3 separate regions of the Homo sapiens genome follow, and regions 1 and 3 are each linked to region 2. A link means that fine-mapping ties the variant in region 2 to the expression of a gene that starts in the linked region. Tissue or cell type: unexposed skin. Region 2 holds a variant in brackets; each other region holds the start of a gene. All regions are shown on one strand. Distances are from middle to middle.

The links. PIP is the estimated chance that this variant, and not a neighbour inherited with it, causes the effect.
Region 1: it holds the start of BNIP3, and the variant in region 2 is fine-mapped to the expression of BNIP3 in unexposed skin (GTEx, PIP above 0.99). The same link has a PIP of 0.9 or more in sun-exposed skin.
Region 3: JAKMIP3 starts here. The variant in region 2 is fine-mapped to the expression of JAKMIP3 in unexposed skin (GTEx, PIP above 0.99). The same link has a PIP of 0.9 or more in sun-exposed skin.

What each region holds. Positions count from the first base shown.
Region 1 is chr10:131,976,919-131,985,021 of GRCh38, forward strand. BNIP3 (BCL2 interacting protein 3) reads right to left here and starts at 5,005. Exons shown (of 6, transcript NM_004052.4): 1 at 4,843-5,005. The coding sequence starts at 4,888. RefSeq lists an enhancer at 4,184-5,108 and silencers at 4,516-4,745, 4,976-5,275, 5,326-5,515, 5,556-5,675.
Region 2 is chr10:132,012,659-132,020,761 of GRCh38, forward strand. No RefSeq gene overlaps it. Among named protein-coding and RNA genes, the nearest start is that of BNIP3, 35 kb to the left of the region's middle. RefSeq lists an enhancer at 6,796-7,467. The variant A/G (reference allele first, on the strand shown) is at 3,557.
Region 3 is chr10:132,062,690-132,070,792 of GRCh38, forward strand. JAKMIP3 (Janus kinase and microtubule interacting protein 3) reads left to right here and starts at 3,257. Exons shown (of 24, transcript NM_001323087.2): 1 at 3,257-3,372. RefSeq lists enhancers at 2,034-2,781, 5,056-5,556.

The DNA of each region.
Region 1 (8,103 bases), 36 kb before region 2:
TCAGGTTGTTCTGCCTATGGAGTCACCATCTTTTTACTGTTTTACTTTCTTTAATAAACATGCTTAAGACACTTATTGGCACAGCGGTTCATGCCTGTAATCCCAGCACTTTGGGAGGCCGAGGCGGGCAGATCATCTGAGGTCAGGAGTCAGAGACCAGCCTGACCAACATGGTGAAACCCCGTCTCTACTAAAAATACAAAATTAGCTGGGCGTGGTGGGCGCCTGTAATCCCAGCTACTCGGGAAGCTGAGGCAGAAGAATCCCTTGAACCTGAGAGGGGGAGGTTGCAGTGAGCCGAGATCATGCCACTGCCCCCCAGCCTGGGCAACAATAGCGAAACTCTGTGTCTCAAACAAAAAAAAAAGACACTGCTCAGGAAGCCCCAGGGGTTTAGGTGCTCTGCACCAGGAAGTAGGTAGGGTCAAGACCAAACACATACTGTAATCTATCACACAAGGGGCAGGCTGAAGACAACAGGGAGAGGAAGATGAAGGAGAGACAAGTGTATCTCTGTCATCCTCTGCGCTACTGCAACAGAATCCCACAGACTTAGTGATTTACGAACAGAAACTGATCTCTGTTCTGGAGGCTGGGAAGTCCAAGATCCACGCACCAACATCTGGTGTCGGCTGAGGGCCTTCCTGCCTCATCCCTTCAATGAGGCTACAGAGGGACCCACCTCCCTCCATCCAGCCCCTTAGAGCACTAATCCCATTCACTAGAGAGGAGCCCCTATGGCCGAGCCACCTCTTAAAGGCCCACCTTTTACTACCATCCCACTGGCAACATGGAGGAACACATTCGAACCAAAGCAGTGCTTTTTAAACATCACCCCAGAAAGGACCTAAAAATCCAGGAAACAAGGAAAAAAAACTCACTCCAGATTGTCCATGGCTAATGACTTTGGGCCCAAAAGCTGTATTCCCAGGAATGATTTACTAAGGGACAGGAGTTTTATTATTAACCCACAGCAACCGCGTAGGAAAGGAAGGCACTTCCTGGAGAATGGAGCGTGCTGTGTATCTACTCACGTGTTACAGTTCTCCACTCGGATCGTTCACCTTTTCAAAGAAAGATGGGCTTACAGTAAGGTTGCTTAATAACCTTAGAAAACTTGCTCATAATCACAAGCAGTTTACACTTCAAATCACTGTAGTATAATTAGGCCCCAGACGGAAAGGTGCTGCTGTTGCTGCTGCAAGAAAAGCCCTCCTTCCTAATCTCATTTCGCGTCCCTCTCATGTTCCTCCCCCTCCTCACTCACTTATAATTTACATTGCTAACAAGACACACAGCCAGTAAATCTTACCTCCCTCCTATATCAAGGTAGATGAGATTTTGAAAAGCCTAGACTATAAATATTTATATCACAGTACAAAAAGAAAACTGATAGGTCTGCCTCAGAGACAAAATACAGTCCAACAAGAGTTCTTAATCCATTTCTTATTCTCACTTTGTGTAAAAAAAAAAAAAAAAAATCATCTGACATCCAGCTTTTCTAGGTGCCCAAAGCAGTTCTCCCTCCAGTGACAGACTCCAGGGAATCCCTTCGATTCACTGCCCTCTGTATGTCCCAGGGCAACTCCCTGGGTCCCATTCCTCAACATGGATTCATGGGCCACAGCCACGAGCCCCACGTGGAGTAAACACAGGGCCAAGTTCTCAAGGCCACCCTATGCCCTAACCTGGGGTGACAACCTCAACTCTGGCTATGAAGGGAGAATCACCTGTGGTGTTTTTTCATTGTTCTCCAAAAGCCTAGCCTCAGCCCACTCTGAAAGTGACTATTTGGGATGCTGGGGTGGAATCCAGGCAAATAGATTGAAAAAGCTCTGGGATAAATGTCAGAACAGAGGGAGGCAGCATCCCAGAAAAAAAACCTGAAGCAGAGGAGCTGTGAACCCCCGAGGGAACTAGCACCCCAAAACCATACAAAGGGCTTCTTCCCCAGGGGAGGTGGGCTCTAAGAAATTGCTGTTTTACCTTTAAAGCTTCTCAGGTTAGTGGGGAGAGAACAAAAGAGACCCGCCTGACAAAAGATTTCAAGTATCAAGTCAGCTGGGTAGGTAAATCAGGTCCCTGGCTTCCAACGGGGCTCGTTTCCCTCCACCTTCCTGTTGCCTCCAGGACCTCTGGCCTCCTCTCCTCCAGGACCCTCCAGGGCCTATTGCACGCAGCCTCAGGCATCTGGGCTCCAGGTATCCCACTGCTGCCTCATGCAGAGACCTTGGCTTCTCCTTAAGTGTTGTTGCCAGCCTTATCTTTCACTCCACCTCTAGAACCTCATTGTGACCATCTATGAAATGCAAGTCTTGGACGAGAATCTCGATGTCTGCAACCCCTTCAGGTCTCAAAGCACACAATGCTACAACTCCACTCCAAAATAAGTAGAAAACATCTTTTCCCCTCATACAACTTTGCCCATGGTGAGTTGCCTCTGACAAGAGAGAGAACCATCTGCCAGTTGCAGACACAGCAGTGGGTGAAGAGGTGAGGGCTTGGATTATTAAACACGGCCCTCCAGAGTAAATGGGCATGCACTTTACTGAACTGATGCCCTCCTGGTGAAGACAGTGGGTCCTTCAAGGAAGTGATGCCCCCGCCACCGTGACACGGTCTCGTCACAGAATCCTACCTCTCCTGCATGTTAGCAGTGACATGTCTAGGAGAAAAGGGCCAAGTTCATGGCTACAGTGAGCTATAATGATTGTGCTACTGCACTCCAGCCTGGGGGAGTAAGACTGGGCTTGTAAAAAAAAGGAAAAGGACAAATACGAGCATCCTGCGAGTCAACAACTTTAGCTAGAATGATCAAGAGATAGAAAGGAACAGAATCAGCCCATTTTGCCATTAACTCTTTAGGAAAAGCAGTTGGCCCCAGAGGGTACACTCAGAGGAGAGAGTGCTTGCTGCTTCCATCCGTGGGTCTGGCTGCAAGGCTCCCATTGTTCTCTGTTCCGAGGTCAACAAGGGGCAGTGAAATCGGACAGGCAGAGGTGAGCGCTGCCTGAGCCACCGCTCCGTCCCGGATTTGCAGGCAGCTGGAGCCCGCGGGACCGGCCAACCCCGCCCACGCCGAGCCCACAGTGGCCCCGTCCTGCCGCGCGGACACTCAGGGCGGCCCAAGGAATCGCCTACATGGGATCCACCCCGCGGGTAACTATCTTTTTATAGAATAAACAAAACAGAAAAACAAAAATCTCGTAACTCCGGCGCTGGCCGCCTTGCACTGCCAATGACTCAGCAGCCTGTGTAAGTTACATATTGGAGAGAGGACCGAGCCCCCCGGAGCCCCCTCCACCTCCCAGCGCCCAGATCCCAGCCGGACAGTGAAACGCACAATGTCAGGAGTAACGCGGCTTCACAACCGGAAAATGGGTGATTTTATGGCAAAGAGTTTATAAAAACATCCCTTGGACTTTATTTTATGACAAAAGATAGGAAAACACCTCTTAATCTATTTCAAAATAGTAATTAGCCAATGTTTAAATTTCAAGAGGAAAAATCCGAATTACAGGATTTTAAAGAATATGGTTTTAGGCCAGGCGCGCCTGGTGGCTCAGGCCTATAATCCCAGCACTTTGGGAGGCCGAGGCGGGAGGATCGCTTGAGCCCAGTTCAGACCAGCCTGGGCAACACAGTGAGACCCCGTCTCTTAAAAAAAAAAAAAGGTAAAAAAAAAAAGCTTGTAGTGTTCATATGTATATATATATATTATTCAATATATTACGGTAACTAAGTCCTGCCTAGTAAAATCTTTTTTTTTGTAATAAAATTAGCAACTCACTAAATTTATGTGAATATATGGTTTTAAAAACTCTCAATGAAGATTAAAAGTTCACTGTCAGAGGTTTCAGCAGTCCTTTCCCAAGCTTATTTACATGCTAATTTTGCTTAGTAAACTCTGGCTTCAAAGAACACAAAGGTCAGCTGCCACCAGGTCCCTCCTCCGAGGCTTTGGCCCTAGGGACCCTGGGAAGGCGGCTTCAGTGCCCGCTTCCCTGAGCAAAGGCTCGTCTGGACTCTGACGCGGACCCACCGGGTGGGGTGGGTCTCCACGCCACCCGGCTGTGCGTGGGGCAAGTCCTGCACCCCGGGCCTGCGTTTCCCGCTGCGTGAACGGATGGTCTTGCGAATCTAGCCAAGGGCACACAGCGAGCCTCTACTCGGGCATTAGGCAGGCTGTAACGACTGAGTGCTGCACGGGCAGCGTCCTTTTGCTTGTGTTTTCTTAACCCGTAAGTCATTTAAAGCTTTGTTTTGGAACGACCCTCTAGTGAAATTGGAACATGCCCATTTAATGCCATATTTTAAAAACGCTGTAACCCCCTCCCATCTCCGCGTTCACCCTTGAGGAAATCCTAACAGTCACCATGGATATAAACATTAATAACAAAATTAAAGCTCATAACAGGCCACTTGCCACGCCTTGGTGTTTGGTCATTAAAACCAATACTGGTCTGAACTACAGACCGCGGAGGGCAACGTGGACTTTGAGGCTGTTCGGTCCAACTGCGAGACGCAGATTCACCTCCAGGTGGAATTCTAGCTCGCGCGGAGCTGGAGAATCGGGGCTTTCCCGTGCGGTCCGACCCGGGTCCAAGCCAACCCCCGCCCGAGTGGCGAGGCCGCGAACCCCGGGCAGTACGCGGGGTCCCCACGCCCCGGGCTCCGCATGCCCGCAGGAGGGGTGGGTACGGAAGGGGAGGATGGCGCAGCCTCGCCCGGCCCGCGATGCCCCCTAGGCCTCCCCGGCAACCTCCCCTTGGCGCCCTCTTGGCCTTCCCCAGGCTTCCCCCCCGCGCCCCCTCGGCTCCCGCGCCGCCTCCTCCGCCTCACCCTGCAGGCTCTCCTCCTGCATCCCGGGCGCTCCGTTCTGCGACATGGCGCCAGAGGGCAACTGCGGCGATCGGAGTCCGCGCCGGGCTGCGGGATGTGCTTCAGCTGCGGGCGGTGGGAAAGCGGAGGTCGGAGCGCCGCGGCCCAGCTGCGCTCCCGGACTGAGCGGAGCCCCGCAGCCCGGCCGGAGGAACTCACAGGGCAGGGCGGGGCCGGGCGGATCTGCGGCCGCGTCGCCCATTGGCCGCGACTTGGGGCCTGCGCGTGCGCAGGGGCGTGGGGTGCGTGTGGCACGTGCGGCGCGTGCGCGGGGCGGGTCCTGCGGTGGGCGAGGGGCAGAGGCCTGCGGTGCGCGGGACGCGGGCGGGGAGAGGGGCGGGGCGAGGGGCGCGCAGGCGCGAGGGCGGCAGCGACCGCCTGAGGTGAGCCGGCCCGGGCTGGACGCCGCGGGCCGCGTGACGAGTGGGCTGCGCGGTCGCCGCCGCGGCGGGCGGTGGGCCGGGTTCTCCTTTGAAGGGGCGGTGGGACCGGCGGACTCTCTGGGCACTGGCTACCACGGAGACGCCGCTACGCTTCGGGGCGGGGCCCGTCTTTCCATCCTGCTAGTGGGGAAACTGAGGCGCGGGGCTGGCGGCGTCCGTGCGGGGGGCGTGAGGACGTGCAGGGAAGCGGCCGCTGCGGCTCCGAGACGGCCCGTGGGGTCGGGACCTGCGCCCGGGGCGGGAGCTGCGAGCGGTGGGCCGGAGCTGAGCGTCTCGGGACGGGACCGCGTCCCCGGGTCTTTGCCCGCCCCGCCGGGGCGCCCCTGCGTGAACAGCGGGGCCCGTTGTGTCCGGGGCGTCCGCCCGCAGGAAGAAGCGGAGGCTCGAGCAGAGTCGAAAGAGTCTGCCCGAGGGAGGCGCGGACCCCAGGGGCCCGGGAGAGGCGCGCCGTCCGCCTCTGCGGCAAGGGGCCTCCGGGGTGCAAACGCGGTGTGGGGCGGGCGTCCCCGGGGTGGGACGCCCCGTCCACGGGGCGGAGTGGCGCTTGGTCGGGCCGGGTGGGTGCCCGGCTTCCGTGGGAGCCAGCCTGGCGTGGGGGCCTCGCAGCCTCGGGACTGGGAGGCACTTTTCAGAGGAAAGTCGCTTTCTCATTTCCCGCTTTTGATCAAAAGTCTTTCTTCTTGAAAGCATTGTTGATCCAAATCCAAGTGTCAAGGTGCGCCCCAGAAACGCTGCTTCCCAGACAGTCGTGTCTGGTCTTGCGGGAAAGGAGGAGGCGTCCCGCCAAGGAACCAGGCGCTCAGAAGCTGAACCGGGGTCACAGAGCCGCGAAGCCAGACCTCAGTCGCTGCGTGCATTTCATCCCTGCTCTTGCCTGTTGAATCGTCTCTAGTCTTTGGAGTGCCATGATTTTAGTTTTCTCAGGAGTAACAAACATCCAGAGGCCAGTGTGGGGCGCATGTCTTTCATCTCAGCACTTTGGGAGGCCGAGGCAGGAGGATCGCTGGAGCCCAGGAGTTGGAGACCAGTCTGGGCAATATGGCGAAACGCTTTCTCTCCCCTAAAAAAATACAAAAAACTTAGCTGGGTATGGTGGCACCTGCTGTGGGAGGATTCCTTGAGCCCAGGAGGTAGGGGCTACAGTGAGCCATGATCAGGCCACTACCCTCCAGCCTGGGCAACAGTGTGAGACCCTGTCTCAAAAAAAAAAAAAAAAAAACCGCCAGAGATACATAGCATAGCATTAATAATTTCGATAGTAGAACTGTAGTGCTGGCCAGGCAGTGGTTCTTGTGTGTAATCCCAGCATTTGGGGAGCCCAAGGCAGGAGGGTCACTTGAGCCTGATAGTTCAAGACCAACCTGGCAACACAGAAAGACTCCATCTCTATTAAAACAAAAATGTTACCAAGTACGGTGCACATAAGGATTACAATGAAAAAGAGAATGTGTATGCCAGAATGAAAAACGGAACCTATTCGAGGGAGTCAACTAAAAGTATTACGAAGAAAATCAAATGGAGAATTGTTCAGAATAGTGTAGCCTAGTGGCTTGTACTTTTTCCCATATGAGTTTCTACTTCGTGGAAAGGGTTTATGCACATCAAGAGGTATTTGCCACCATACATAGACTTGCTTGCTCAGCTAATAATCGAAAGCAATGCAGTCGTCCAGTGCAGCCTTAGCCAGTGAGTCAGTAGCTTTTTGTTGGGCTGTGATGGAGGCAGCAGTTTCATCAGCAATATTTCCTGATAGGCCAGATATGCTCGCAGTCATCCCAAGTAAAAGCAAACAAATACTGACTCTAGGTCCACTGGAATACTAAAGAAGGCACTACATAAATGAGTCACAGTGTCTCACTTCCAGCTGCCGAAAGAGGATGGGGCTTTGGTACTACCAGATGTCTGGGGATCACAGTGTTGATGACGGTTCTCAAATCTTGTACAGAATACCAGCTCTTCCCATTCGGCTTCCTTACAAGAAGGATTGGAGTATTACATGCTGGCGCAAGGAATAATTAGACCCCTTTTAATATAGTCTTTTGTTACGGATCTTATTCCTTCATTTGCTTCAGGCCTTAGAGGATATTGTCTGATATTGGGTAAAGGATTAATCAGGTTTACTTCCACTTTAATGAAAGTGGCTGAATATATTTTACTAATGTCGGTGGAAGACTCTGACCATAAGTGGTCTGACAAAGCTTGCCCTAAGCCATCCGTGTCATTAGTGCCAGTTGAAAAAAAAGTTGTTTGATCTGTATTTTTATAATTTCAGTAATTTCTCATTCTGTAGTTTTTCCATTTGCTCCTTCCATTCTAAACCTAAATCCATTTCTTCCTTTTGGGAGAAGGAAAGCATGCATTGTGACGTTCCAACACAAAATGTCTGCCTAAGAGATGTCTGAGAGGTGGGGGAATGAAGAAAAGAATGAGGGCCCTGGGATTCTAAGGGCTTGGACTTGTATCCAGTGATAGGCTGATGAGATAACCCTACCGTTTGTACAGTTCCATTACTCCAAGGAAGGAGACAACTTAAAGTGGACGAAAAGAGTGGCACCAGTGTCTTTGAGGGCATGTGTCTGTTCTTCATTTATGGCAATGTCCATTTCTCCTAAGGCATTAGTAGAAATAGGAACACCTCCCTTCGATCATCAGAGCAATCCTGTTCATCATGTGGGATCCTGGTTTTTCACTGGTCCTGCTGTTAAATTTTCTACAATCTTTTTTGAAATGGCCAGGCTTTTTACAGTAGAAGCAAACAGCCCTTTTGTCATTAGAAGGA
Region 2 (8,103 bases):
GATACATTGGTGTAGTGACTTACAAATTAGTAAAATAGTTTATAACCAATGCTTGATCCCGTATTCCTGGGAAAACAATTAAAGCTTCAGATACATTTGGTCACCTGGTGAGCCATTAAACATTTTATAAAGGGATTTCATTCAGTTGTTATTTTTGATGTATGTGTTCTGGTTGTATAAAATCTTTCCCATGCAAGAGGACTGATGTTATAACAGTAGATTATTTTGTCACAGTATATTTTCACCAGGTTGAAAAAAGGCTTTTTATGGTTCAGATCTTCTGGGAACATCAGAGAAAGACTGTCCTTGCCATCCACACTACAACAAAACTTCAGGACCTTGAACTTTGGGTTTATAATGTCACAACTGAGAAGGGTCCCTCCACACTCTTGGAGCTGTGCACCCGTTGGAACCCTTAAGGTAAAAATAATCAGGGAAATTTCTCCCAAGACGAGGATGGCATCCTTGTTGTGAACAGCTTTTCCCGAGTTCACAGATTAAGACTTCTGTCATGAAACTTCTCTTTGAATACTTTTTCTTGCTTATACCTCTACGAACACTAGAAGTAGAAAAGGGTCTATTATGTGCACTTATGGGTTATACTTTTATTTGTGAAGGAGTTTGCAGCCAGTCTTATACATGGATAACCTTATACTTTGATAGATAAAAGATGAAGGCCCAATGTAGGTAAGAAATTTTACTGGTACGCACGTTGCCTCGTAATCAATCAAAAACAAAACATTGGTTCACTCCTCTGAACCCACATCATGGGTTAAAGAGAACATAGCCAGGAGGTCTTCACTATTCTAAAAAGGCATCATCTGTTGGGTCCTTTTTCCATGATTTAAAATAAAAGAAGCAATGATTAGAAATGTATCCCTCTTGGGAGGCTGAGGCGGGCAGATCATGAGGTCAGGAGTTGGAGACCAGCCTGGTGAAACCCCGTCTCTACTAAAAATACAAGAAATTAGCCAGGCGTGGTGGCGTGTGCCTGTAGTCCCAGCTACTCGGGAGGCTGAGGCACGAGAATCACTTGGACCCTAGAGGTGGAGGTTGCAGTGAGCTGAGATCGCGCCGCTGCACTCCAGCCTGGACAACAGAGCGAGACTCCATCTCAAAAAAAAAAAAAAAAAGGAAAGAAAGAAATGTTTCCCTCATGATAGGCTTTATAGAAGATTCTCCTGTAAAGGCTACAGTTACGCAACAGACTTTAAATTCTCTTGTGAAAGTTATAATAGAACTGGCTGACCAGAGAAATATCTGTGCAGCTGCTGGCACTTGTGGCCTATGGAGAAATACAGCAAATGAAGATTATAGAAATTCAGTGGTAGGAGATGGATGAAGAAATTGCTTAGTCAAGTGAGTGAGCTTTTTATGTAGCTCTTTCTTTGATCTATCTGATTTTAAGAGGTTCAGTTTATGAGAACCCTGGCTAAGGGGCGTACTCCAAACTCTTGGTATTATCCTCCCAGTAGTCATAATAATAGTCTCCCTGGCGCGCTGTGTTCTCTCAGGTTGTAAATGCTGTGTAGCTATCTCTAGAATGTCACATGGTCTCTCTTCAGCTGAAATAGCAGGAGCTAAAATAAATGTGCAACCACGAGGGCCCCGTAACCTATAAATGATGTGCTGAGACTGGAAACCCAAAATGATGGTAACTGAGAGTGGTGTAAAGCCCCTAAGCTTTGGTCACTCTCTCGCCGAAGTGAGAACCTGACCAAAAAGGAGGCATTCTTTAAACAAAATTCTGGGAGGCCATTGTTTTGGACTAAGCTCATGCACTAGGCCCCAACAAACCAAACCAAACCCAAATGGAGTCACTTGTGCTAAGACTTTAAGGAAACACATAGATTCTAGAACAGACCAGGTTTTGTTTTTTTCTCCTGCAAATCTCTATAACGAACATTTCTGACTGCATGGGTATCCACCTCCGAAGTTCCTATGAAATCTTTTAACCAAATTTATTTCCTCTCGCCTAAAGACCATCAAGCCTCAGATGATCACGCAACAAATGTTCCAGCCAGTTCCAGGTGAAGACACCACCCCTGGCTATCAAACAGCTACCCTTCCTCCACTAGACAGAGCAGGGCGAGAGTTCCATGATTCCCAATAGGAAGGGACTACGCTCCAAGTCAGCATGAAGCAGTACAGAAAAAAGACCATTGGTCCCTCTGCCTCCCATAAAGATTTATGGGGATCACATACTGGGGGGATATGAGACAGGAAAATAGGGTCTGCAGGCAGGAAGCATGAGGCCGATTCACACTTCAGCTATAACAGGAAATATCCTCTCCATAGGGCATACACCGAGTAAATGACTTTGTAAATTTACTTCATCCTCTTCATTTACATAGGACGTACCCCAAGTAGAGGGTATTTAAACTCACAAAAACTCTTTAACGGGGCCCTTGAGCCCCTATGCTTAGGCCCGCTCGCACACTGTGGAGTGCACTTTCATTTTCAATAGATCCCTTCATCTCTTCCTTGCTTTGTTTGTAGGTTTTGTCCAATTCTTTGTTCCAGACACCGAGAACCTGGACACCCTCCACCATGAACACCCATGTCAGGGGCATTCAAATCACAGCATCTCTCTCGTGAGTGAGTGTTCGTAATGCTTATTCCCCGGTGCCATAAAGAAATAGCACTTGAACATAAATTTAATTTCCTCAGCAAGGGCATTTTTTTTACTTTCTGCAGAAAGGGTACACTTCCCAGCAGTTTTGCCATGAGAGTACACCGAACAAAGGAGGCAGGGTCATTTATAACCTGACGTGTCCACCCTACGTCTGTGTCCGGTTTCCATTGGCTGGAACGGGACCTCACATTCTGGTTTTGTCCCAGTTGGCTAGCAACTTATAACAGCTCTGTCACCCAGGCTGGAGTGCAATGGCACGATCTCGGCTCACTGCAACCTCCTCCTCCTGGGTTCAAATGATTTTCTTGCCTCAGCTTCCCAAGTAGCTGGGATTACAGGTGCCCGCCACCATGCCCGGCCAATTTTTACATTTTTAGTAGAGACAGGGTTTCACCACATTGGCCAGGCTGGTCCCGAACTCCTGATCTCGTGATCCACCCGCCTCAGCCTCCCAAAGTGCTGGGATTACAGGCCTGAGCCACTGCGCCCGGCTGCAACTTAGAACTTTTTAAAAGAGGCAAAGTCATAGGAGAACAAGGAAAGGAGGAAGTAACTTGTGGAATGCTGAGGAAGGTAAAAACACCTTCAAATAAGGAAGAGGAACAGGCTCTGACCTAATGCTTGCTCAGGCTAGTATAAGCATGCCAGGGCAAATATTTAGGCTAAATTGGGGGAGCTAAGAACTTAAAGTACATTGATTTCTTTATTACAGCTAGCAGATATTTAAGAATGTTAGCACAGGTCTTTGAACAAATTTTTGCCTCTAAGAGAAGTTGCTATTTATTCCTAATTAGATGGGGAGGAAAGTCTTTGAAGAGGAACCTCTACTTTACTTTTTACAGTGAGGGCTGGGAAAGGAGGCTGGGGCTTGCTGGGCTGCAGGGCCGGAAAGTTAGGTATTCCCAGCCTCTGGATGTTTAT[A/G]GTCAAGGGAACAGATTGACAACATTTACTAAACAGATCCAGACATAGGAGTGTCCTGATATCCCGATATCTTGAGAACAGAAGCAGTCCTATTTTGCTTTAAAGATAATATCGATTCTTGCAAAATATAGTAATTAAGAACAGTAACTCTTCATCACAAACCCTCATAGCAGAGCACATCTCCCCATGATCTTTTTTTATCGTGTGTATAAACAAGTATTGTACTGTGGGTGGACACATTCCTCCTCTTACTTTTGGGAACACCCTACTCTGTCTATGGAGTAGCTGTTCCTTCACTTTACTTTTGTCAATGAAAAGAGTCAAACTCTGAAAAATATTTGAAGAGATTTATTCTGACCAAAACATTAGTGACCATGGCCCGTGACACAGCCCTCAGGAGGTCCTGAGAACCTGCGCCCCACGTGGTCGGGGTGCAGCCTGGTTTTATATCTTCTACGGGGCAGGGGGTCATGAGACATCAATCAAATACATTTAAGAAATACATTGGTTGGGTCCAGAAAGGCAGGCAACTCAAAGTGGGGGGCGGGGCTTCCAGGCTACAGGTAAATTTAAACATTTTCTGGTTGACAATTGGTTGAGTTTGTCTAAAGTCCTGGGATCTATAGAAAGGAAATATTCAGGTTAAGATAAAAGACTGTGGAGCCCAAGTTTCTTTTGAAGCCTCATAGTGGCTGCCCTCAGAGACAATAGATGACAAATATTTCCTATTCAGATGCTTAGAAGGTGCTAGACTCTCTGTAACCGAAGAAGTTTTCTCAACAGATTCTTTTTCTCTAAACATTCACAAATGCAAAAACACATTTTGTATATTTGTGCATGAGTGATCTACAGAAGTCCTTGTCTTATTAATGAAAGTTCATGGAGACATGATACCTTTATCACTTACTGTGCACTCACACATCACTGGTTTCAAACATTTCTCACCCGTGTGATGGGGCACTGGGTGCCTCTGAGAACATGCTGATTTTTGGACTGGACATATTCTCCACTCCTCACTTGACTTCATGGTTCCTCGCTCATACAGATGTCTCTGTGACTGAAAACCCAACACTGATATCCAGCAGATTTTCCTCTTATGAGATTCATATTCTCTCTCTCCCTTTCTCTCCATGTCTCTATTTTTCTCTGTCAATGCTATTTATTACTGAATCATACTGAATCCTGCCAACAGTCTCCATCTCACGTTCTGCCAATCTTCTGCCTCAAAGATAATTAGGGGCAAACTCATCCTTGCCCAAGGTGGGAAAACTCTCCAGACTTATACCAGATTTACAGCCTCATATGAACCATGATCAAACATTATTTGTTTTTAGATTATACCTCAAAATGAAAAATGCTTTTTCAAAATAGCTATGGCATTCTATATTCCCACCATTACGCAAAGCAGCATGGAGGCTCCCAAATACATTAAAACAGAAATACCATATGACCAGCGATCCTTCTGGGGCTCCTTCCCTGGGAGGGGGTCCTCGCTTCTGAGCATCCTTCCCTGGGAGACGGTCCCCACTTCTGGGGCTCCTTCCCTGGGAGGGGGTCCTCGCTTCTGAGCATCCTTCCCTGGGAGAGAGTCCCCACTTCTGGGGTTCCTTCCCTGGGAGGGGGTCCTCACTTCTGAGCATCCTTCCCTGGGAGACGGCCCCCACTTCTGGGGTTCCTTCCCTGGGAGGGGGTCCTCGCTTCTGAGCATCCTTCCTTAGGAGAGGGTCCCCACTTCTGGGGCTCCTTCCCTGGGTGGGGGGTCCCCACGTCTGAGCCTCCTTCCCTGGGAGTGTGCTGTACATGGAGCCATCCTGGGACCTCAGAAGCCTGGGCTGGGTTCAGGGGCATGAGGAGCCTGAGGGGCTGAGGGGTGCCCAGGGCTGGGGACCCACAGCGATCTGGGAAGGTGTCTTCCTCTCTGGGGTTTGGTTAACTGTTCAACTCTGACTTTCAGCCACTGCTCAAATTAGCCATTGCCAGTAACAAGGGGAATATTTTGGGCTCCATCTGCTTTTGTTTTATTTCTCTCTCTGTTCAATACTCAAGCAAGGAAAAGGGATGCTGTTCATTGTGGGACTCTTAGAGGTGCTAAACACTTGCAGCTTAAATTGCTGGAGAGGAACTATCTAAAGAGACACCAAAGGCAGGTAAAGTCAGATCTTCAGCATGAGACGTGGACTTGGGCTCTCATCTGTATTTGTGACTAGGCCTCACCTGCTTTTTTTCTTTTTTTTTTTTAATAAACTTTAATTTATTATTTTTGTGTGTGCGTAGGCATGGGGTCTCATCATGTCGCCCGGAGTGATCTTGAACTCCTGGCCTCAACCAATCCTCTCTCTTCAGCCTGGCTCTGGCCTGGGCGCTGGCTCTCTGTGAGGCTGTGGCTGGACCAGGTGCACTGCAAGCAGCTTCCAAGGCTGCCACTGGGAAATGCAGTGGTGCTGGAAGCTTGGAGACTCCAGGAACCACAGGGCCCCAAAGAGGGAGTTACAGCCCTGGCTCAGGGAGCTTCGAGGACTGGGCTCCCTGAAGGGCCACAGCTCTTTTCTCCTTCTCTTCACCTGCAACATGGAGAGCAAGGGGTGTGTTTCAGCCCTGTTTGTGTTACTACTCTTTCAGCTCTGCCATTCAGCAGGTCTTGAGTTCTTGTCCTGTGTCCAGGAAGAATGAGGTATGTGAACAAATGGAGGGTGAGCAAGGTGAAGAGGAGCTTCATTTAGTGACAGAATAGCTCACAGGAGGCCCTGGAGTGAGTAGCTCCTCTCTGTAACTGCTCATCCCAACGTCTGCTCAGCTCTGGCTAAGCCCAGGCTTTTATGGGCCTCAGAGGGGAGGAAGTGCGTACCAATTGGTCCATGGGCGGCCATGGGCAGGCCTGGAAAAGGCACCACAAGTCCCCTCTCTGGTCTGCAGGATTGGCAGCCCTGCCCCTAGCCTTCAGGCCCTCCCTGGCCTAAAGGTGGGCTCTCACCAGGGACCCACCCCCTTCCATCCGGGAGCCTGTCTGCCTCCTGCTGCTGTTCATAGTGTCCAGGCTGTAGGTGCCAAGGGCTGCCTGCAGGCCAGCACAGACCTGCCCTCAGACCCCATCGGCTTCCCTCCCAAGCTCGTCAATGCCCAAAGTCTGGAGGGGGCCAGGCAGCAGGGGGTTGGCATGTCAGCAGTGCTCCACGTGCATGCACACCCAACCGGGCTGTGACAGCACCCGGGCTTGGCCCCAATTTTGCTCTGAGATTGGAGTGAACACTGAAAGCAGGGAGAAGCCAGGCAGTGGGAGCAGGCACTTCTGAGCCTGTGAGGGCAGGGGGATGCCTTCCTGGGCCCCCAAGAGTGCAGGGATGCCTGGGTCCACAGCCACAGTTTGGGCGGCTGCAACTGCGCCTGGAGGGTGGGGGCCGCAGGGCTCCTGCCTTCTCCATGGAGTAGGAGGCCCAGGTCTACAACTGTGACTTGGGTGGCTGCAGCTGAGCCTGGGAGGGCGGGGCTCCTGCCTGCTCCAGTCCCCCTAAGAACACAGGGAGGCCCAGGTCTGCAGCCATGACTTGGGCAGCTGCAGCTGTGCCTGATGGGGGTGGGCAGGGCTCTTGTCTGCTCCTTGTAGTGGCAGGCTCCGGTCTGCAGCCACAACTTGGCTGGCTGTGGCTGCACCTACAGAGCTCCTGCTCAGAAGGGGCAGGGATCAACTCAGAAGGGGCAGGGATCCCACTTGTCCCTGGCTCCCGCCGGCTCTGTGGAGTGTGCAGCCCATATGCAGCCCCAGCCACACCTCCCCACTGTACCCAGCATGATGGCAGCCACCGCTCCAGATGGGCCGCCTCTGCCATCATCGCTATCATCCAGAGTCCACGTTAGGGTCCACTCTTGGTGTTGGACATTCTATGGGTTTCGACGGATGTGTAATGACATGTATCCCCCACGACAGTAACACGCAGAGCACTTTCACTGCCCCAAGTCCTCTATCCTCTGCCTGTTCCTCCCTCCCTCCCTCCCCTGTCCCCTGGCAACCACTCATCTTTTTACTGTCTCCATAGTTTTGCCTCTTCTGGAATGTCAAAGAGTTGGGATCATACAGTGTGTAGCCTTTTAGATTGACTTCTTTCACAGAGTAATGTACATTTAAGGGTCCTTCATGTCTTTTCCTGGCTTGATAGCTCATTTCTTTCTAACCCTGAACCACACTTGATGGGATGAATCACAACTGATGGTTCCACTCACCTGCTGAAGGACATCCCAGCAGCTTCCAAGTTTTGGTGAGTATGAACAAAGTTGCTGTAAACATCCACGCGCAGGTTTTGTGTGGACACGTTTCCAGTTCCTCTGGGTAAAAACCCAGGAGCTCAACCTCCACCTGTGTCTCTTAGGCAGCCCTCTTCTGCCGAGCTCTTCTCTTAGGCAGCCCTCTTCTGCCGAGCTCTTCCTGCTCTTCTCGTCTCCAAGCCTGGCCCCAGTGCCCTGGCTCTTCTCTCTGCCTCCTGAGTCCTCCCAAGCCTGGCCCAGACCTCGGGCTCACACTCTCCTCCAGATGCTGCAGCGGTCATTGCCTAGAG
Region 3 (8,103 bases), 50 kb after region 2:
AATACAGAAGCCATGCATGGGAATAAAAAAACAGGTCTCAGTCATGAGACAGAGGGACCGAGGATGGGAGCCCCTGGGGGCAGTCCTGGCAGGATTCCAGGAGGAGGTGCCTTTGCATGACGGGAGCTGGGGTGGTGGGTCCAACAGCTGTGTGCAGGGCCTGGAAGGCGCAGGCCTGTCTGGGAAGGGAGGAGAAAAGGAAGGCAGCCATATTTTTGCTTGGATAATAACTGGTGAATGGCTGTGTCAGGACCTGCAATATAATAGAAGGAAGAGTGAAGTTTGGGGCAGGGCAGGTTATTTTTGGACCCGCCGGGTCTGAGAGGCCCCCGAGGAATTGTATGGAGACACCGGGCCAGCAGGACGGGTGGGTCTGGGAATCAGCGATGGAGCAGCAGAGCCCTGGATTTGGGTGTGATCATGGGAGTGGCCAAGCTCCCCCAGAAAGGACAGGTGACAACTGCCCGTGGGTGGGAAAGGGAAGCCAGGGACGGGCTGTGGGATCAGACTTGGGCCTCGTGGTGCCTGGTGAGGCAGCCACGTGAGACATAGAGACCCACTGGAGGTCGTGGTTTTCCCAGACCCTGTGACACAAGTGAGGCCTGCTGTTTAAGCCTCTTTTCCTCAGAACACGTCCTGGGGGTGCTGGCTCCATCCCAGGTGCTGGGGCTCGGTTTCTGGGATCTGGAAGAATTAGGGTGGAGCTGGCAATGTGGCTGGGAGGCTCAAAGCTCAGCTTCTTGAGGACTAGCAAGGATGGTTTTCTTATTCATCTATTCCTGTGTTTTCCAAATTCTCTACAATGAGCACATTTCACTTTTACAACTAGAAAAATGGATGCTATTTAAAGAGCAGGCTGCTCCCTAAGCTGGAACGCCGGGTGTCAGCCCGGCCCAGCACCCACCTGCTCTCCGCCTCAGCCAGCGTGGGGATTTGGAAGGGACAGTGTCTCCCTCTGGGCTCCGGGAGAGAACGGACCGTCTGCAAGGGGCACGTTTACTGCAGGAATCAAAAGCACATACACGCATGTGCATCTGTTTGGAAATGAAAGTAGATGTTTTTTCTGATTCTAAAAATATTGTTTCCAATTCTACAAAAAAAATACATACAATTCAGAAAGATACAAAACAAAATATCAAGTCACCTGAGATCCTATCACCTGGAGCTATGGCCACTTTAGAGCTTGGTATCTACGCTTTCAGGCTTTGTTTTTCTTGAGTGCAACACACACAGGCACGCGTTTTTAAAAACAAATAATGTGATCATACTATACACACTTTTTTAAACAGAAATGTGAGCATACGATACCAGCTTTTTTATGGCTGACTTTAAAAAACTTAAACAATAGGTTGTTTACGTCTTTCTGTTAAGCTTGGACTGGGGACATTTTTAAATGGCCCCATTGTATTTGGACGTATGTGCGTTTCCCATCGCTTGTTAAATCACTCCTCTGTTGGACGTCTAGGATGTTTCCAATTATTCCCTGTTATATTATGGACAACACTGCCGTAAGCATCCCTGAGTGAGTTATATTTAAAGGCTTACAACAGCGCCTGGCACGGGGTAGGTGCTATAAAGTATTTGGACTAAAGTCAAATCTGTGCACACACCATCCTTGTGTTGTTTCCCCAGGATCAATTCCAGCAGGAGGACAGCTGGGCTGAGGGGGCACTGCCCTCGTCAGGAAGGTTGTCCCCGTGGCCTGCCTCCGACTGAGGAGGAGCCACCCTCGGGGTCGGGCGTGGACCCCGAGCCGCCGGCATGGGAACCCTCTTTGCTTCAGGGCAACACGGGAGGGGTCTGGATCTCCGACCCACCGTTCCGGGTCTGAATCCAGCTCCGGGACCTGACAGGGATGTGATTGTGGGGCAGCCGCATGGCCTCTTGGCGCTCCAGCCTCCTCCCCTGTGACATAGAGGCAGCGATGGTTGGTAACCAGGGACAGCGGGCGGCTCCGTCACACGAGTCAGGACATGTGACCCTTGGAGGGTTGTTGCATCACCCTGGACGTTTGGCCAGACGTGTGGCCATGGTTTTAATCAGGACAATTTTTTGCTTGCTCTAACTTATGAGGGTGGCCAGATCTAGACAGACAGCAGAAGTAACCCGAAGTCCTGGCCTGCCCTGTGCCATCCTCTGACATGTTATCATCGGCGTTCACTCTGTGGGCTCCTCTCGGGGTGATGCCTGCCGGTCTCAGCTTTGGGGTGAAGTGACATTTGGCCTTGACTAGAAGAGGCAGGTTGTGGGGGGCAGGCAGGGTGCAGGCGAGGGAACTGAGGCAGAGCGGGCTGGGAGCAGGGGGGATGTAGGGTCCTCCCAGGCTGACCCCCAGAACCTGGGCGTGCAGGCCTGCTCTGGGGTCCAGGCTCCGATGCAGTCTCAGCGCAGGCCCTGGTGGCCGGAGACAGGGCAGGGCAGGAGCTTCAGGCCACCCGCACCGGCAGCCCTCAAGGCTGCCTTGATGGAATCGGACCCAGATGGACTCTAAGCGGCCTCCTGCTTGGAAACCCTGTCAGACCCTGCGTTTTCTACAGAGCGGCTGTCACACGGCTTTTCCGGACGGTGATTATGGACTGCGTGTGGGATTGGCGGGCCAGGTGAGCTCTCGTGCTTGCCCTTCACACAGGAATGCTGCTGGTCTCCTGTGTCTGGTTCCCGTCTGCATTTTCAGTCCTCAGTGTTGAGTGTGTGCAAATCCCTTCTATCACCTGACATTTAAAATAGATACCCTCAGAGTGGAAGTTCGTTCCTATTATTGACCCGCTCACTCTGCAATCTTGAAGGGGGTTCTCCAAGCAGGAGGGAAAGCCGGCCAGAACGCGGTCCTGGAGCAGCCAGGAAGCCGAGGGGGCGGTGAGGGCAGGGATGGCCCAGCCGTGGCCTCTGCCGCTCGCTGGTTTTCACGTGAGACTGCCGCCGGGCCAACCCGGAGCCCAGGCCGCCTCTGCATCTGAATAGAGCCAAGCTGCCTTCAGGATCTCACCTGCGTGGCTGTGCCTTCGGCCGCCCGGCCGTGCAGAGCTGCGGGCCCCTTCCCCACCGAGAAGCGTCTGTTCGCGCCCTGCAGGGAGCTGGGCTGGGGGCTCAGAGGATGCCTCTGTGCTTGGCCTTAAGGTGCACAGGGAGAGCTTGGGCGATCCTGGCTCAAGGGCTCTGCTTGGAAACAGCTCGGGGAAATGGTTCCTCCCCCTGGATGTAGTCACAGCGTGGTAAATTCCATCTGAAAAATAAAAGCCGAGCTCTTTGCTGAGTCATAGAAGCTCGGAGCTGATTTGCGCAAAAGCCGGACTGAGTCTTGGACGAGCCGGGAAAGATTCTCACAGTCGAGCAGAGCGATGGGAGAGAGGAGCAGACAGCGAGCTTTGGAATGTGAGTGTTTATTTTCTGACTGCTGCAGAGGCTTTGTTGGTTTCGGTTTGGCTGTCTCTGCACAGGCTCTTTCCACCTGGTGCTCTTCTGTATTTAGTGCGCACACGTATGTGGCTGGAAAGTTGACAGTTTGGGGTCTGTCCTCTGAGGGGTGCAGGGACGATCACAGAGGAAGATGCTTCATTTATCCGTTTTCACGTTCATGCTCATGCACACATTTGGAGGAGGCTTGGGCCTGCGTTCCCAGTAGTAGGTTTCTCCTTTAAAGCATGGGTGTGTGTTCCATCCCATATGTAAAGCGGATGCTTGTTGGCACGGCAGCCGTGGTGGGGTGGGTTGGGGAAGCCAGGCTGAGTCTGTGTATTGCCGGCTGTGGTGAGAATCCCACGGACATAGCACCAGAGAGCTGTCTGCACAGCCCGGGAGGCCTGCGGCGTCCGGGTGCTTCCTGGCTCCGTGGGGTAACCGGCTGGACTTTTTTGCTGCTTGTTTTCCTTTTGAAGAATAGGTCATCTTTATGGCTTGAGGCCTCACCACCTACCTGCGCATTGATTGGATGGTGTCTTCTCTTTAAAACTTAATCAAGAATCACACATCACTCATTGATATAACTTCTTATGCAAGGAACTCCAGGTTTTTGGGAAACAACAGCTTATTAACTTACTAATTCACTCTTTGAGGTTATTGCACCATGCCTCAGTTTCTACAGTTGTTCAAAGAAAATCCACTGCTGATTGGGACTGGCAGGGCTGCGGTGGAAAGGGTGTCACAGGTAACTTGGCAGTACGTTGTTGTACTGATGCTTATTGAGATGTCAGTGAGACTGGCCGGGAAACCATGCAGGCACCCTAGGGATGTAAATACTTGCTGCTGCCGTTGATTTTGTTGTTCACAGTGTGGGAGAACCAGTCACAAAACGGTTTTCTCATTCCAAGCCAAGCCTGGAGTAGTAGACTTGAGAGTCCTCTCAGTGGATCGGGCCTTTGAGCAGGTCCGTGGTAAAACGCCACCTCAGTTCCCGAGAAGAGCAGCAGAAGAGGAAAGTGAGCCGGGCCGAGGAAGGACCCTCAGTTTACATTCACAGCATTACCGGCAAAAGGCTGGCGTTTGGATGAGGTTCCCTAAGAGTCCCACAGAGTAGATCAATATGATCAATATGTGCTTGGAGAAGACAAGACGCCTGGCACATTCACATTCCTTCTCCAAGGCTGAGGGTGGGGGGAGGGCATTGGCATTCCTGCTATTCCCGAGGTTTCCCTGCCTCTCCTGTGAGTTGAGGGCACCCCTGTGAAACCTAAGGGCACGCTGTGGCAGAGAACATGCACGGAGCTCCTGCTTCTCTCCCGACAGCCCTGGGAAGGCCTTACTACTTTAGGTCCTAACTAACAATATCCAAACGACCAGGTGGTGGTCCCACAGCAAGGGAGCTGTCAGTCAGAGCTGTGCCTCTGCCCCCGTATTTTGGATCGAGCTCCTCCAAGAGAAGTAAGTGTCCTATACATGTTCTTGGAAGGTTGATCTTGACTGTGGACTTCCGTGTGGACTGTGGGCTTCCGTGTGTACTGTGGGCTTCCGTGTGGACTCTGGGCTTCCGTGTGGACTGGACTGTGGGCTTCCATGTGGACTGTGGGCTTCCGTGTGGACTGTGGGCTTCCGTGTGGACTCTGGGCTTCCATGTGGACTGGACTGTGGGCTTCCGTGTGGACTCTGGGCTTCCGTGTGGACTGTGGGCTTCCGTGTGGACTGTGGGCTTCCGTGTGGACTGGACTGTGGGCTTCTGTGTGGACTGTGGGCTTACGTGTGGACTGTGGGCTTCCGTGTGGACTGGACTGTGGGCTTCTGTGTGGACTCTGGGCTTCTGTGTGGACTGTGGGCTTCCGTGTGGACTCTGGGTTTCTGTGTGGTCTGGACTGTGAGCTTCCGTGTGGACTGTGGGCTTCTGTGTGGACTGGACTATGGGCTTCCGTGTGGACTGTGGGCTTCCGTGTGGACTGTGGGCTTCCGTGTGGACTGTGGGTTTCTGTGTGGACTGTGGGTTTCTGTGTGGTCTGGACTGTGGGCTTCCGTGTGGACTGGACTGTGGGTTTCTGTGTGGACTGTGGGTTTCTGCGTGGTCTGGACTGTGGGCTTCCATGTGGACTGTGGGCTTCCGTGTGCACTGTGGCTTCCGTGTGGACTGTGGGCTTCTGTAAACTGAATTCCATTCAGGACCAATGCCATATCTTTTTATTTTTCCTTGACTCCTGAGTTTCCAGACAGGCAAGCTAGGATGTGGCTGGATGGTGGTGTTAATTTTCCATTTGGACCCTGAAACGGCCCTCTTTAGTACGGGGATTGAATAAGTTCAGGACACTAGCCACTGAGATGACTCTTTTTGAAAGAGCCTATGTTGGCCTCCTAGGCTTCTTCCATGAATCTCTTGGGCAAGTGTTTCTTATCCATGAACCTCTTGGGCAGGTGTTTCTTATCTCAATATAGCCCTGTTGGTCTGGCACCCCAAGCTGGGCTTTGAGCGATGTGAGGTAGACGTGCTTTGGGAGCCGGAGACTGGAGGTGTCTCCTGTCCTGCACCTTAGCCCCAGGAGCTGCCTGGGCCTGCTTTCTTTGCAGACGTCTTATATTTATCAAACCTGTGCTGCAGGCAAGGGCCATGCTTACTTTCCTTTGGGGTCCCTCTGGAAGGCTCTCAGGAGCTGAGTTCTTGATTGCCTTGGGTTTTTGACCCCAGGACATGACATCAGGAATGTCCTGTGGTTGCCAGTTTCCAAGCAAGCACAGCTGGCAGGGGCATCATGGGAAACCCTCTCCTTGGCACAGAGAATTGGTCTCCAGAAAAACCGGGCCTCAAAGTGAAGCCGGAATTCAAACCTAGGGAAAGTGACTCCGGCCAGCTCAGGATGAAGGATGTGACTGGATCAGGAGGATTTGCAGACCTTACTGGCCTTAGTGCTCGGCCTGCGGCTGAGTTCGAGGGGAGCGCCTTTAGCTGGACTGGTCCAATGTGTTTAATTGGGTAAGGAGGAATCCTACCCAGGCGCCATTCTTCCTGGGCACGGAGCTTATTAAAACTTTCCCCAGCTGCTGCTCTTCCCAGACATCCACCTGCCTGGTGGGTGGTTGACCCAGGACTACTTTGACTTTGAAGGACCCCAGGTCTTCCTGCCTGAGGAGGACTCTGAGCACCCAGCCAGGGGTGGGAGGCCAGGGGAGGGGTCTGGAGGCCTCGGTTTTTCTTCTGAAGGGACACTGGGTCTGTGTTACACCCCCAAGGACACGTTTTCCCAGGTCCCCACTGACCTGTTTCGTGTTAAGCTGAGATCCAGTACTATCCTGATGGTGGTGGGGTGGGTCTGAGCAGGAAGGGGCCTGGAATCCATCCCATCTTCACCAGGGACCCCCCAGACAACCTTCTCAGGGGGCTCCTGGGTGTTTTGGTGATGAGCTCCGATGGGGAGGAGTTAGGACTTGGGCTGAAGCTCTGCTGTTTGAAGCTGTCTCACATGTAGGTCTGGCATCCCCCCCTGCGTGCAGGTCTCTGTGGTCAACCTCCTGTTGTGTCCAGCGGCCATGTCCATTTCAGAGTTTCATTAAAGAGCGCAATTGGCAGGTGCATAGCACCTGATAGCCTGCAGCATGGCTCTGGTCTCAGAGTGGGAAGAAGAGGAAACCATGGACAGAAGGACCTTCCAGTGACATTTAGCAAAAAGAAGCAAAGTGTGAAAGTGAGGTGGTGATGTTGGGTTGGGAAGGTGGGGGCTTCCTGAGCCCGCCCTTGCTGCTTATCCATTCCACCAATGTTCACTGGTACCAGCACCCTGTGTGTGGGCACTGATGGCATAGGGCACAATGGGAGCACAGACGGGGCTCGGTCCCCAGTAGAGTGTGACCCACATGGGGAGTTCTGCAGCCTACCCTGTACCTTAGAGAGTGACACGGGGCTGGCAGGTGGCCGGTGGCATCAGGAGCGGTGAGAGGTGCGGCTGCTGATGTACCACCCTGTGGGGGCTTCGGGCACCAACTCCCAGTGAGTGTCTCCACCTGATCTACCTCTGTCTAAACAGCACTGTCTTCCATTTTTTTTTTTAGTTGCATTTTTATTTTTTGAGACAGAGTTTCACTCTTGTTGCCCAGGCTGGGGTGCAGTGGCGCGTTCTTGGCTTACTGCAACCTCTGCCTCCTTGGTTCAAGAAATTCTCCTACCTCAGCCTCCCGAGTAGCTGGAATTACAGGTGTCCGCCACCACACCCGGCTAAATTTTGTATTTTTAGTAGAGATGGGGTTTCGCCATGTTGGTCAGGCTGGTCTTGAACTCCTGATCTCAGGTGATCCGCCTGCCTCAGCCTCCCAAAGTGCAGGGATTACAGGCGTGAGCCACCGCGCCCGACCTGTCCTCTGTCCTCCCTTTAACAGCACTTCTTACCCTCTGCTGCTTTTTGATGTCTTCAGATCCTTAATCCCATGCGTGATCTTTGCTGTGTGAAGCAGTGGAGCTCCTAGAAGGCCTTTTGACCCTCTTCCTTTTATGTAGATGCGTTTGTCTACTCATTCCTGAAGTCCAAAGGGGAGGGGAGTCCAGCTTCCGAAACAGACCTTGGTACCTTCCTTTTCAGTTTTCACAGATGCTTGTGTACTTTAAGAAGAGCTTAGTCTTTATGACTTTTAAAAGAGCCCCCAAAGGCCCTATGATCTGGGCATGGTGGCACATGTCATAGTTTTGGGGCAGCTGCAGTG